Linked DNA regions of Homo sapiens: region 1 is linked to region 2. Evidence: fine-mapped expression QTL. A gene starts in region 2. The other region holds a variant in brackets. All regions are shown on one strand. Distances are between the middles of the regions. Region 1 has its middle 7.9 kb from the start of PRSS36. Region 2 holds the start of KAT8 (lysine acetyltransferase 8).

What was found.
Region 1: its variant is fine-mapped to the expression of KAT8 in fibroblasts (GENCORD, PIP 0.93).

What each region holds. Positions count from the first base shown.
Region 1 is chr16:31,155,191-31,160,676 of GRCh38, forward strand. No RefSeq gene overlaps it. Among named protein-coding and RNA genes, the nearest start is that of PRSS36, 7.9 kb to the left of the region's middle. The variant A/AT (reference allele first, on the strand shown) is at 2,991.
Region 2 is chr16:31,114,904-31,120,112 of GRCh38, forward strand. KAT8 (lysine acetyltransferase 8) reads left to right here and starts at 2,761. Exons shown (of 11, transcript NM_032188.3): 1 at 2,761-2,989. The coding sequence starts at 2,779. It also overlaps a transcript of BCKDK not described here. RefSeq lists silencers at 2,579-2,805, 2,705-3,054 and an enhancer at 3,225-3,344.

The DNA of each region.
Region 1 (5,486 bases), 40 kb after region 2:
CAGCACTTTGGGAGGCTGAGGCGAGAGCATCACTTGAGCTCAGGAGCTTGAGACCAGCCTGGAAAACATAGTGAAAACTTCATCTCTATTCCTAAAAATAAAAATTAAGAAAAGATAACTGGCAGAATAGACGAAAGCTAAACATATGCCTGTATTTTGACCCAACAATCAAGATCCTAGGTATAGACCTAAGAGAAATGAGGGTGCCATAAGGCATATGCAGAGCATGGCACTCATAGAAGGTCTAGATACAAGAGCCAAGATCCAGAACATAAATGTCCGGCCCCAGGAAAATTGATAAATTGTGGCATAGTCATACACTGAAATACTATGCAGCAATAAAAAAGAATGAATTACTGATATCTGCAACAACATGGATGAATCTTACAGATTTTTTTTTCAACAAATATGTGTCATATTGCATGATTCCAATTATATGCAATTTAGGAACAAGCATAACTAATCCCCAGTGGTAGAAGTCAGAATAGTGGCCGGACACGGTGGCTCACACCTGTAATCCCAGCACTTTGGGAGGCTGAGGCAGGCGGATCACTTGAGGTCAGGAGTTCAAGACCAGCCTAGCCAACACAGTGAAACCCTGTCTCTACTAAAACACAAAAATTAGCCGGGTGTGGTGGCACATGCCTGTAATCCCAGCTACTCAGGAAGCTGAAGCAGAAGAATCGCTTGAACCTGGGAAGCGGAGGTTGCAGTGAGCCGAGATAGCACCACTGCACTCCAGCCTGGGTGACAGAGCAAGATTCCATCTCAAAAAAAAAAAAAAAAAAAAAAAGGAATCAGAATAGTGGTTGCTTCTGGTGGAAGTATTATATTATGTGGGAAGGAGCACAGAGAAACTTGCTAGAGTGCAAGAAAGTTCTAGATCTTGATGTAGGTGTGTATATACACAGGAATATACACATGCAGAGTTTCACTGAGCCGTACCCTTAAGATCAGGACTCTCTATGAACTTAGCTAGAGATGCTGAGGTGGGAGGATCTCTTGAGCCCAGGAGTTTTGAGACTAGCTTGGGCAGCATAATGAGACCCCATCTCTAAAAAAAAAAAAAAAAAAAAAAGTTTACACCTGTATCCCAGCACTTTGTGGGGCCAAGGCGGGTATATCCCCTGAGGTTGGGAGTTCAAGACCAACCTGACCAACACAGTGAAACCCTGTCTCTACTAAAAAAAAAAAAAAAATACAAAATTAGCTGGGCATGGTGGTGCATGACTATAATCCCAGCTACCTGGGAGGCTGAAACAGGAGAATCACTTGAATCCAGGAGGCAGAGGTTGCAGTGAGCTGAGATCGTGCCATTACACTCCGGCCTGGACAACAAGAGCAAAACTCCGTCCCCAAAATAAATAAAATAAAATAAAAATTAGCCAGGCATGGTGGCATGCACCTGTAGTCCCAGCTACTCGGGCTGAGGTAGAAGGTTCACTTAAGCCCAGGAGGTCGAGGCTGCAACGAGCTATGATTGCACCACTACACTCCAGCCTGGGTGACAGAGCGAGACTCTGTCTCAAAAAAGAAAAAAAAAAAAAAAAGAAAAGAAAAGAAAGAAAGAAGGAAAGAAAAAAAAAACTATATGGTTATTCCACATGAGTAAAAAGAAATTAAAAGAGGCAAAACACACTTTGCAAATAAATGGATTCCAGAGTCAATTAAGAAAAAGCCAAACGAACTAGCTCCAGAAATGCTTTCCTGGACCAAAAACGTTGGGAAAATGTGCAGCTTTACATCCGATAACACCAGGGCATGTGTGTAATGTTGTTTCTGAAAGCTTAGCTAAAATAATGAAACCCTTCAGCATTTGGAAAAACAAGAAAAGCATGCTTAACCAAAGATGTTGATATTATGTTTCCTGATAAAAGAGATCATGTTTTTTAAAGGATTTTGGTAACAGGTTACTTTTTTTCTGAATTGGCTTTGTCACTAAAATGTCTGGTTATCACTGACCTACAAAAAAAGGCATTCTTCAGATAATCCTTGATAGTATTGTTGCTCTCACCACACTTTCCAAAGGTGCTGACCAGAGGGAGCAGAAGACTGTTTCACAGCTCAAGCACACAGCCGCACGCGCTCCACACCAGCGAAGCCCAGCAGTGCCGCATCTCATCGTGAAAAGAGGAAGCCAGAAGCTGGGAGTCACTCCACTTCTGGTCAGGGCTGTTCTGTGGAATATACTGTGGGCAGGGCCACATGTCTCCTCGAAAAATAATCTGGGCTGTCTGTCCTCATGCACACCAGAATGGGTGCCATGACAGAGAAAGCTGCATTTTATTTTCATTTTTTATTTGAGACGGAGTCTCACTCTGTTGCTCAGGCTGGGGTGCAGTGGTGCAATCTCCACTCACTGCAGCCTTTGCCTCCTGGGTTCAAGTGATTCTCCTGCCTCAGCCTCCCAAGTAGCTCGAATTACAAGTGCCCACCATCATGCCCAGCGAATTTTTGTATTTTTAGTAGAGACAGGGTTTCATCATGTTGGCCAGGCTAATCTTGAACTCCTGACCTCAAGTGATCCACCCGTCTCAGTCTCTTAAAGTGTTGGGATTACAGGCGTGAGCGCAGCCACTGCAAACATTTGGTTTGTAAAACTCTTTTTTTTTTTGAGACGGAGTTTTGCTTTTGTCCCCCAGGCTGGAGTGCAGTGTTGCGATCTCAGCTTACTGCAACCTCTGCCTCCCGGGTTCAAGTGATTCTCCTGCCTCAGCCTCCTGAGTAGCTAGGATTACAGGTGTCCACCACCATGCCCGGCTAATTTTTTTGTATTTTTAATAGCGATGGGGTTTCGCCATGTTGGGCAGGCTGGTCTCCAACTCCTGACCTCAGGTGATCTGTCCGCCTCAGCCTCCCAAAGTGCTGGGATTATAGGCGTGAGCCACCACACCCAGCTGGTGTATAAAACTCTTAAAGCACGTGTCACTCCTTTTGGAGTGCCTGCTAAAATACAGAATACTTAGCTCAGTCTGAATTTGAGATAAACG[A/AT]TTTTTTTTTTTTTTACTATAACTAGGTCTCAGGAAATACTTGAGTTATATTGAAAATTATTTGTCGGGCCAAGTGAAGTGGCTCACACCTGTAATCCCAGCACTTTGGGAGGCTGAGGCAGGTGGACTGCTTGAGCTCAGGAGTTTAAGATCAGCCTGGGCAATATAGTGAGACCCCATCTCTACAAAGAGTTTTTTAAAAAATTAGCTGGATGTGGGCCAGGCGTGGTGGCTCAAGCCTGTGGTCCCAGCACTTTGGGAGGCTGAGGCGGGCGGATCACGAGGTCAGGAGATTGAGACCATCCTGGCTAACACAGTGAAACCCCGTCTCTGCTAAAAAGAAAATACAAAAAAATTAGCCGGGCATGGTGGCGGGCACCTGTAGTCCCAGTTACTCGGGAGGCTGAGGCAGGAGAATGTCGCGAACCCAGGAGGCAGAGCTTGCAGTGAGCTGAGATAGCGCCCCTGCATTCCAGCCTGGGTGACAGAGCGAGACTCCGTCTCAAAAAAAAAAAAAAATAGCTGGATGTGGTGGTGTGCACTTGGGAGCTACTTGGGAGGCTGAGGTGGGAGGATGGCTTGAGCCCAGGAGGCAGAGGTTGCAGTGAGCCATGCCACTGCACTCCTGCCTGGGCAACAGAACCAGACCCTATCTCAAAAAAAAATTATTTGTGTTTCCAATAGGCACAGGGCTCACGTCTGTAATCCCAGTGGTCTGGGAGGCTGAGGCAGGAGGATCACTTGAGACCAGGAGTTCGAAACTGCAGTGAGCTATGATTGCACCATTGCATTCCAGCCTGGGTGACAGAGCAAGACCCTGTCTTAAAAAAAAATTATTTGTGTTTACCTGAAATTCAGATTTAATCGGGCACTTATTTTATTTGCTAAATCTGGTTGGGAGTGGTGGCTCATGCCTATAATCCCAGCACTTCAGGAGGCTGAGGTGTGAGGATTACTTGAGTCTAGGAGTTCGAGACCAGCCTGGGCAACGTAACATAGACCCCGTTTGTACAAAATTTTTTTGTAAAATAAAAAAGGAGTAAAATAAAATTTTTTGCTAAACCTGGCAACCCTGTTCCCTATTCCATAATATTATCTTGCTAAGTCACTATATTGTTGCATATCTGCTTGGAAGAAATAACTTTTTTTTTTTTTGAGACGGAGTTTTGCTCTTGTTGCCCAGGCTAGAGTGCAATGGCACGATCTTGGCTCACTGCAACCTCCACCTCCTGGGTTCAAGTGATTTTCCTGCCTCAGCCTCCCCAGTAGCTGGGATTACAGGTGTATACCACCACTCCCAGCTAATTTTGTATTTTTACAATTTTGTATTCTGGAGTATTTTAAATACGATAGAGTATTGTATTTTAAATACAAAATTGTATTTTACAATTTTGTATTTTAGAGACGGGGTTTCACCCTGTTGGCCAGGCTGGTCTTGAACTCCTGACCTCAGGAGATCTGCCCGCCTTGGCCTCCCAAAGTGTTGGGATTACAAACATGAGCCACTTCGCCTGGCCAGAAATAACTTGTTCTCAGAAAAAACTTGGAGTTAGAATGTTATTCTATGAGGGACCCTCTGAGTGGGAATATTTGAGAGACTTGATAAAATTGGGAACATGTTGTGTGTTGACTCCACGCTTGACTGATATGATCAAGACATCCCCTTGGTGCTCCCTCTCGTGGCAAGAAGAGTAACTGCTCCTTCAATTTCACTCCCAGACTCTGCCCCCACCTCCCCACCCACCTCTTGGTCTCCAGGGACCATGCTGGTACCCTGAGCCTGTCGGAGCCAGAGATTGCCCCAGGACTCAGCGCTTTAGCCTCAAATGAGTTGCCCTACTTCAAAGGGACCTCACTTTGTGAGATGCACTGTATAGAATTTTTTTTTTTTTTTGAGATGGAGTCTCGCTGTGTCGCCCAGGCTGGAGTGCAATGGCATGATCTCAGCTCACCGCAACCTCTGCCTCCCGGGTTCAAGTGATTCTTGCCCCAGCCTCCCGAGTAGCTGGGATTACAGGCATGTGCCACCACGCCCAGCTAATTTTGTATTTTTTAGCAGAGACAGGGGTTCTCCATGTTGGCCAGGTTGGTCTCGAACTCCCAACCTCAGGTGATCCGCCCACCTTGGCCTCCCAAAGCGCTGGGATTACAGGTGTGAGCCACCGTGCCTGGCCCTAATTTTTGTATTTTTAGTAGAGACGGGGTTTCACTATGTTGGCCAGGCTGGTCTTGAACTATTGAGCTCAGGTTATCCACCTGCCTCAGCCTCCCAAAGTGCTGGGATGACAGGCATGAGCCACCGTGCCTGGCCATTGTATGCAATTTGGAGGGTGGTTCCTGAGACACAGAGAGAACAATCCGAGTTGGAGTCTGAGGAGGTGGCAGCTCATTGCTGGGAGAGAGACGTCCTCCTGCTTCTGAGGGGAGCAGTTTTGGGGTGCTCCTGCATAAACTGTATGGGGTCCGGGAGAGCTCTTGGGGGCAAGAGAGGAGGTC
Region 2 (5,209 bases):
TTTTCCTCCCTTCCTCCCTCTTTTTTCTTTTTCTTTTTTGAGATGGAGTCTTGTTGTGTCGGCCAGGTTGGAGTGCAGTGGCGCGATCTCGGCTCACTGCAACCTCCACCTCCTGGGTTCAAGCAGTTCTCCTGCCTCAGCCTCCCAAGTAGCTGGGATTACAGGCACACGCCACCACCCCTGACTGTTTTGTATTTTCAGTAGAGACGGGGTTTCACAATGTGGGCCAAGCTGGTTTTGAACTCCTGACCTCAAGTAATCCACCTGCTTCGGCCTCCCAAAGTGCTGGGATTACAGGTGTGAGCCACCGCGCCCAGTCTTTTTTTTTTTTTTTTTGAGGCAGAGTTTCACTCTTGTTGCCCAGGCTGGAGTGCAATGGCACAATCTCAGCTCACCACAACCTCTGCCTCCCAGGTTCAAGCGGTTCTCCTGCCTCAGCCTCCCGAGTAGCTGGGATTACAGGCATGCGGCCACCACGCCTGGCTAATTTTGTATTTTTAGTAGAGATGGGGTTTCTCCATGTTGGTCAGGCTGGTCTCGAACTCCCGACCTCAGGTGATCTGCCTGCCTCGGCCTCCCAAAGTGGTGGGATTACAGGAGTGAGCCACTGCGCCCAGCCTCCTTTTCTTTCCCCCCTTTTTTTTTGAGACAGGGTCTCTGTCACCCAAGCTGGAGTGCAGTGGAGGGATTATAGCTCACTCAGCCTCGACCTCCTGGGTTTAAGCGATCCCTCTGCCTCAGCCTCCTGAGTAGGTGGGACTACAGGTGCGGGCCCCGAGGCCCAGCTAATTTTTTTTTTCCCCCAAATTTTTAGTAGAAAGGAGGTCTCTATGCTGCCCAGGCTGGTCTTGAACTCCTGGCCTGAAGCGATCCTCCTGCTTGGATTCCTGAAGTGCGAGATTACAGGTGTGAGCCACCATACCTCAACACTGTATTTTCAACCCGCTCTTCGTTCAATCTCCAAAGGTGGGACATGCGGATATGGAGGGCCGATTGTGTATGGTTGGACCATACACATATAAATGGCTTTAACCTTTACTGACTCTCACAGAACCCTCAGTGCAGTGGCGTGATCTCAGCTCACTGCAAGCTCCACCTCCCGGGTTCACACCATTCTCCTGCCTCAGCCTCCCGAGTAGCTGGGACTACAGGGGCCCGCCACCACGCCCGGCTAATTGTTTTGTATTTTTTTTTAGTAGAGACGGAGTTTCATCGTGTTAGCCAGAATAGTCTCGATCTTCTGACCTCGTGATCCACCCGCCTAGGCCTCCCAAAGTGCTGGGATTACAGGCGTGAACCACCGCACCCGGCCTTTTTATTTTTTTTGAGATGGAGTCTGGCTCTTGGTCCCCAGGCTGGAGTGCAATGGCGGGATCTCGGCTCACTGCAACCTCCGCCTCCCGGGTTCAAGCGATTCTCCTGCCTCAGCCTCCCGAGTAGCTGGGACTACAGGTGCGTGCCACCACGCCCGGCTAAATTTTGTATTTTTAGTAGAGACGGAGTTTCACGGTGTTAGCCAGGATGGTCTCGATCTCCGCCCGCCTCGGCCTCTCAAAGTGCTGAGATTACAGGCGTGAGCCACCACGCCCCGCCCAACTCGTCCTTTCTTTAGACTTTATCCTGTGAGGGTGAATTATGGCCTGTCCCTGGACACACCCGTTCTGCTTTCCCCGCACCAACTGTATCCCAAATAGGGGAAGTAGTCTCTTCAACCTTCAAAAATGGGGCACTGGCTGGGCACGGTGGCTCACGCCTGTAACCCTAGCACTTTGGGAGGCCGAGGCGGGCGGATCACCTGAGGTCAGGAGTTCGAGACCAGCCTGGCCAACAGGGTGAAGCCCTCTCTCTACTAAAAATACAAAAAATAGCCGGGCGTGGTGGCGCGCGATTGTAATCCCAGCTATTCAGGAGGCTGAGGCAGGAGAATCGCTTGAACCCGGGAGGCGGAGGCTGCAGTGAGCCGAGATCGCGTCACTGCACTCCAGCCTGGGCGACAGAGCGAGACTCCATCTCAAAAAAAAAAAAGGGGGGGGGGCGGGGAGCGACATTAGGCCAGCGCGAGTGTGCGGCTCCAGGCCACCAGGGCGGCCGCTCTGGCTCTGCCCTGTTAAAGTGGGGGCAGCGCCCGCTGAAAATTGGCACATCTTGGCTTCCGCAGGTACCAGGGCCTTTAAAAAGGTTCAGCTGGCCGGGCACGGTGGCTCACGCCTATAATCCCAGCACTTTGGGAGGTTGAGGCTGGCAGATCACGAGGTCAAGAGATCAAGACTATCCTGGACAACATGGTGAAACCCCGTCTCTACTAAAAATACAAAAATTAGATGGGCGTGGTGGCGCGCGCCTGCAGTCCCAGCTACCCGGGAGGCTGAGGCAGAGGAATCGCTTGAACCCGGAGGCGGAGGTTGCAGTGAGCCGAGATCGCGCCTCTGCACTCCAGCCTGGGCGACAGAGCATGATTCCGTCTCAAAATAAATAAATAAATAAATAAATAAATAAATTAAAAAAAGGTTGAGTTGAGTCATCGCATGAGGTAAGTCTGTCTCCTCTCCTCACCCATAGGCTGCAGCCACAGGTCCGCACGGAAAACCAGGAGCTCCAAGACTGCCGCACACTCAACATCCAACTCGCGGGGCCGCGGGGACGGCCACAGAAGCCAATCGGCTCCTGCTACATCACAGACCCCGCCCTCAAACCTTGAGGAGCCCGCCCCACGCACTGCTGACCCGGAGCCAAAAGAACTGCGTGGCGTCCGATTCTGGCGTCACTTCCCTTCCCGCGATGGCGGCACAGGGAGCTGCTGCGGCGGTTGCGGCGGGGACTTCAGGGGTCGCGGGGGAGGGCGAGCCCGGGCCCGGGGAGAATGCGGCCGCTGAGGGGACCGCCCCATCCCCGGGCCGCGTCTCTCCGCCGACCCCGGCGCGCGGCGAGCCGGAAGTCACGGTGGAGATCGGAGAAACGTACCTGTGCCGGCGACCGGATAGCACCTGGCGTGAGGGCGGGGCCCAGGGCTGGGGGCGGGGCGGAGCTCAGGGCCAGGGGGTGGGGCGGGGCCTGAGGACAGGCTGTCAGTGAGGCCAAGATCCGGGGGCTGGGAGTGGAGAGGAGGAGGGGCGGGGCTTGAGGAAAGAACGCCGCGTTCCGGGCGCTGAGAAACCAGCCGGGTTGTGGGAGGCTGTTGACCTTGAATTATGCCGAGCGACGCCTACAAACCCACCGCTCAGGCCTTCACCAGGATTGTTCCCATTCCACTTCCTTGCCCAGTCTTAGGCTTCATTCCTTTTTCTTGCTAACGCTGCTTCCTCACCCTCTCTTGTCTCTGCGTCTTCTTTTTCCATTTGTCCCTGGCAGCCATCCGCAGAGAGAAGACCTTCCAGAAACAACAGGCTTCCCTTTCCTAAAGTTCTGCTGCCTTCTCTCATTTTCAAAATTAACCCCAAACTCCTTAGGGTGGCATTCATTTTTGTGACCTCTCCAGTTTCTAGCCAACACTAGGAAAGGGCATTGCCAGGCCAGAACACACTGTGCCCTCTGAAGACCACACGCCCTTTACCACCTGTGCCCTTTGCTTGGAATGCTTTTTCTTCCCTTTCTCCTTGTTTGCCTGCCTAGCTCCTACTCATCCTCTTAGCTTCATATCCTTTGTGATGTCATCCTTGATTCCCCTTCAGGCAAAGTGAGTGGTTCCCTTCTCTATGTTCCTGCAACATTTTTTTCCTACCTCAGTCATAGTTTTTGTAACATTATGTTGTAATTTTCTCTCTCTGTCTTCCTCCATCATACTGGGAACTTCTGGAGGGCAGCACTTCTTGTGATTCATCACTGTGTCCTCTGTACCCGGCAACAACACAGCATAGGGCCAGACACGTAGTGGTTGCCTTACTCATTTATTGAATGCTCTGCTAATTGTCAGGTGCGCTGCTAAAAATTTTGGAGGCATTAATTCACCTTCTAAGGTTGGTACTATTATCCCTTTTGTCTTTTTTTTTTTTTTTTTTTTTGAGACAGGATCTCGCTCTGTCACCCAGGTGGGATTGCCGTGGCACGATGACAGCTCACTGAAGCCTAGACCTTCTAGGCTCAAGTGATCCTCCCACCTCACCCTCTCAGAGTGTTGGGATTACTGGCATGAGCCACTGTGCCCAGCTGTTATCCCTTTTCACAGATGAAGAGACTGAGGCTCAGAAAGATGGAATAACTTGCTCAGTTACACATAGCTAGGAAGTAGGGAGCTGGAATTTTGTGTATTTTTTTTTGTTTGTTTGTTTGAGATGGAATCGCTCTCTGTTGCCAGGCTGGAGTGCAGTGGCGCCATCTTGGCTCACTGCGATCTCTGCCTCCCGGATTCAAGCGATTCTCCTGCCTCAACCTCCTGAGTAGCTGGGACTACAGTTGTGCGCCACCACACCCAGCTAATTTTTGTATTTTTAGTAGAGACGAAGTTTCACCATGTTGGCCAGGATGGTTTTGACCTCTTAACCTCGTGATTCACCCACCTCGGCCTCCCAAAGTGCTGGGATTACAGGCGTGAGCCACGATGCCCAGCCCTGGAATTATACATTAATGTAGGTTATCTTAATCCAGAGCCAGCACTCATGATCCCTGAACAAATGAACAACTGCGGGTATGTGGTAAAATGAGCATTGAATTTAGAGTCAGACTTAAATTCAGTTAAGTATTAGCTCTTACCACTTTTCAAATCTGTGACCCTAGGTAAGCCTCAGTTTTGTTCTGTTTTTTGGGGTTCTTTTTTTTGAGACAGAGTCTTGCTCTTGTCACCCAGGCCACAGTGCAGTGGTACAATCTCGGCTCACTGCAACCTCTGCCTCCCGGGTTCAAGCAATTCTCCTGCCTCAGCCTTGCCTCCCAGGTTCAAGCAATTTTCCTGCCTCAGCCTCCCGAGTAGTTGGGATTACAGGTGTGTGCCACCATGCCTGGCTTTTTTTTTTTTCGTCTTTTTGGTACAGATGGGGTTTTGCCATGTTGACCAGGCTGGTCTCAAACTCCTGGCCTCAAGTGATCTGCCCATCTCGGCCTCCAGAAGTACTGGGATTACAGGTGTGAGCCACACACCCAGCCAGTTATTTTCTCATTCGTAAAATGAGAATAACAGCCTCAACCTGATCCACCTCACAGTTGTGGCAGTGATTGAGTAGAATGGCAGAGGTGGACCAGTGAGGTTAGCTGATGTGTGGCCCTGAACTCTGGAAAC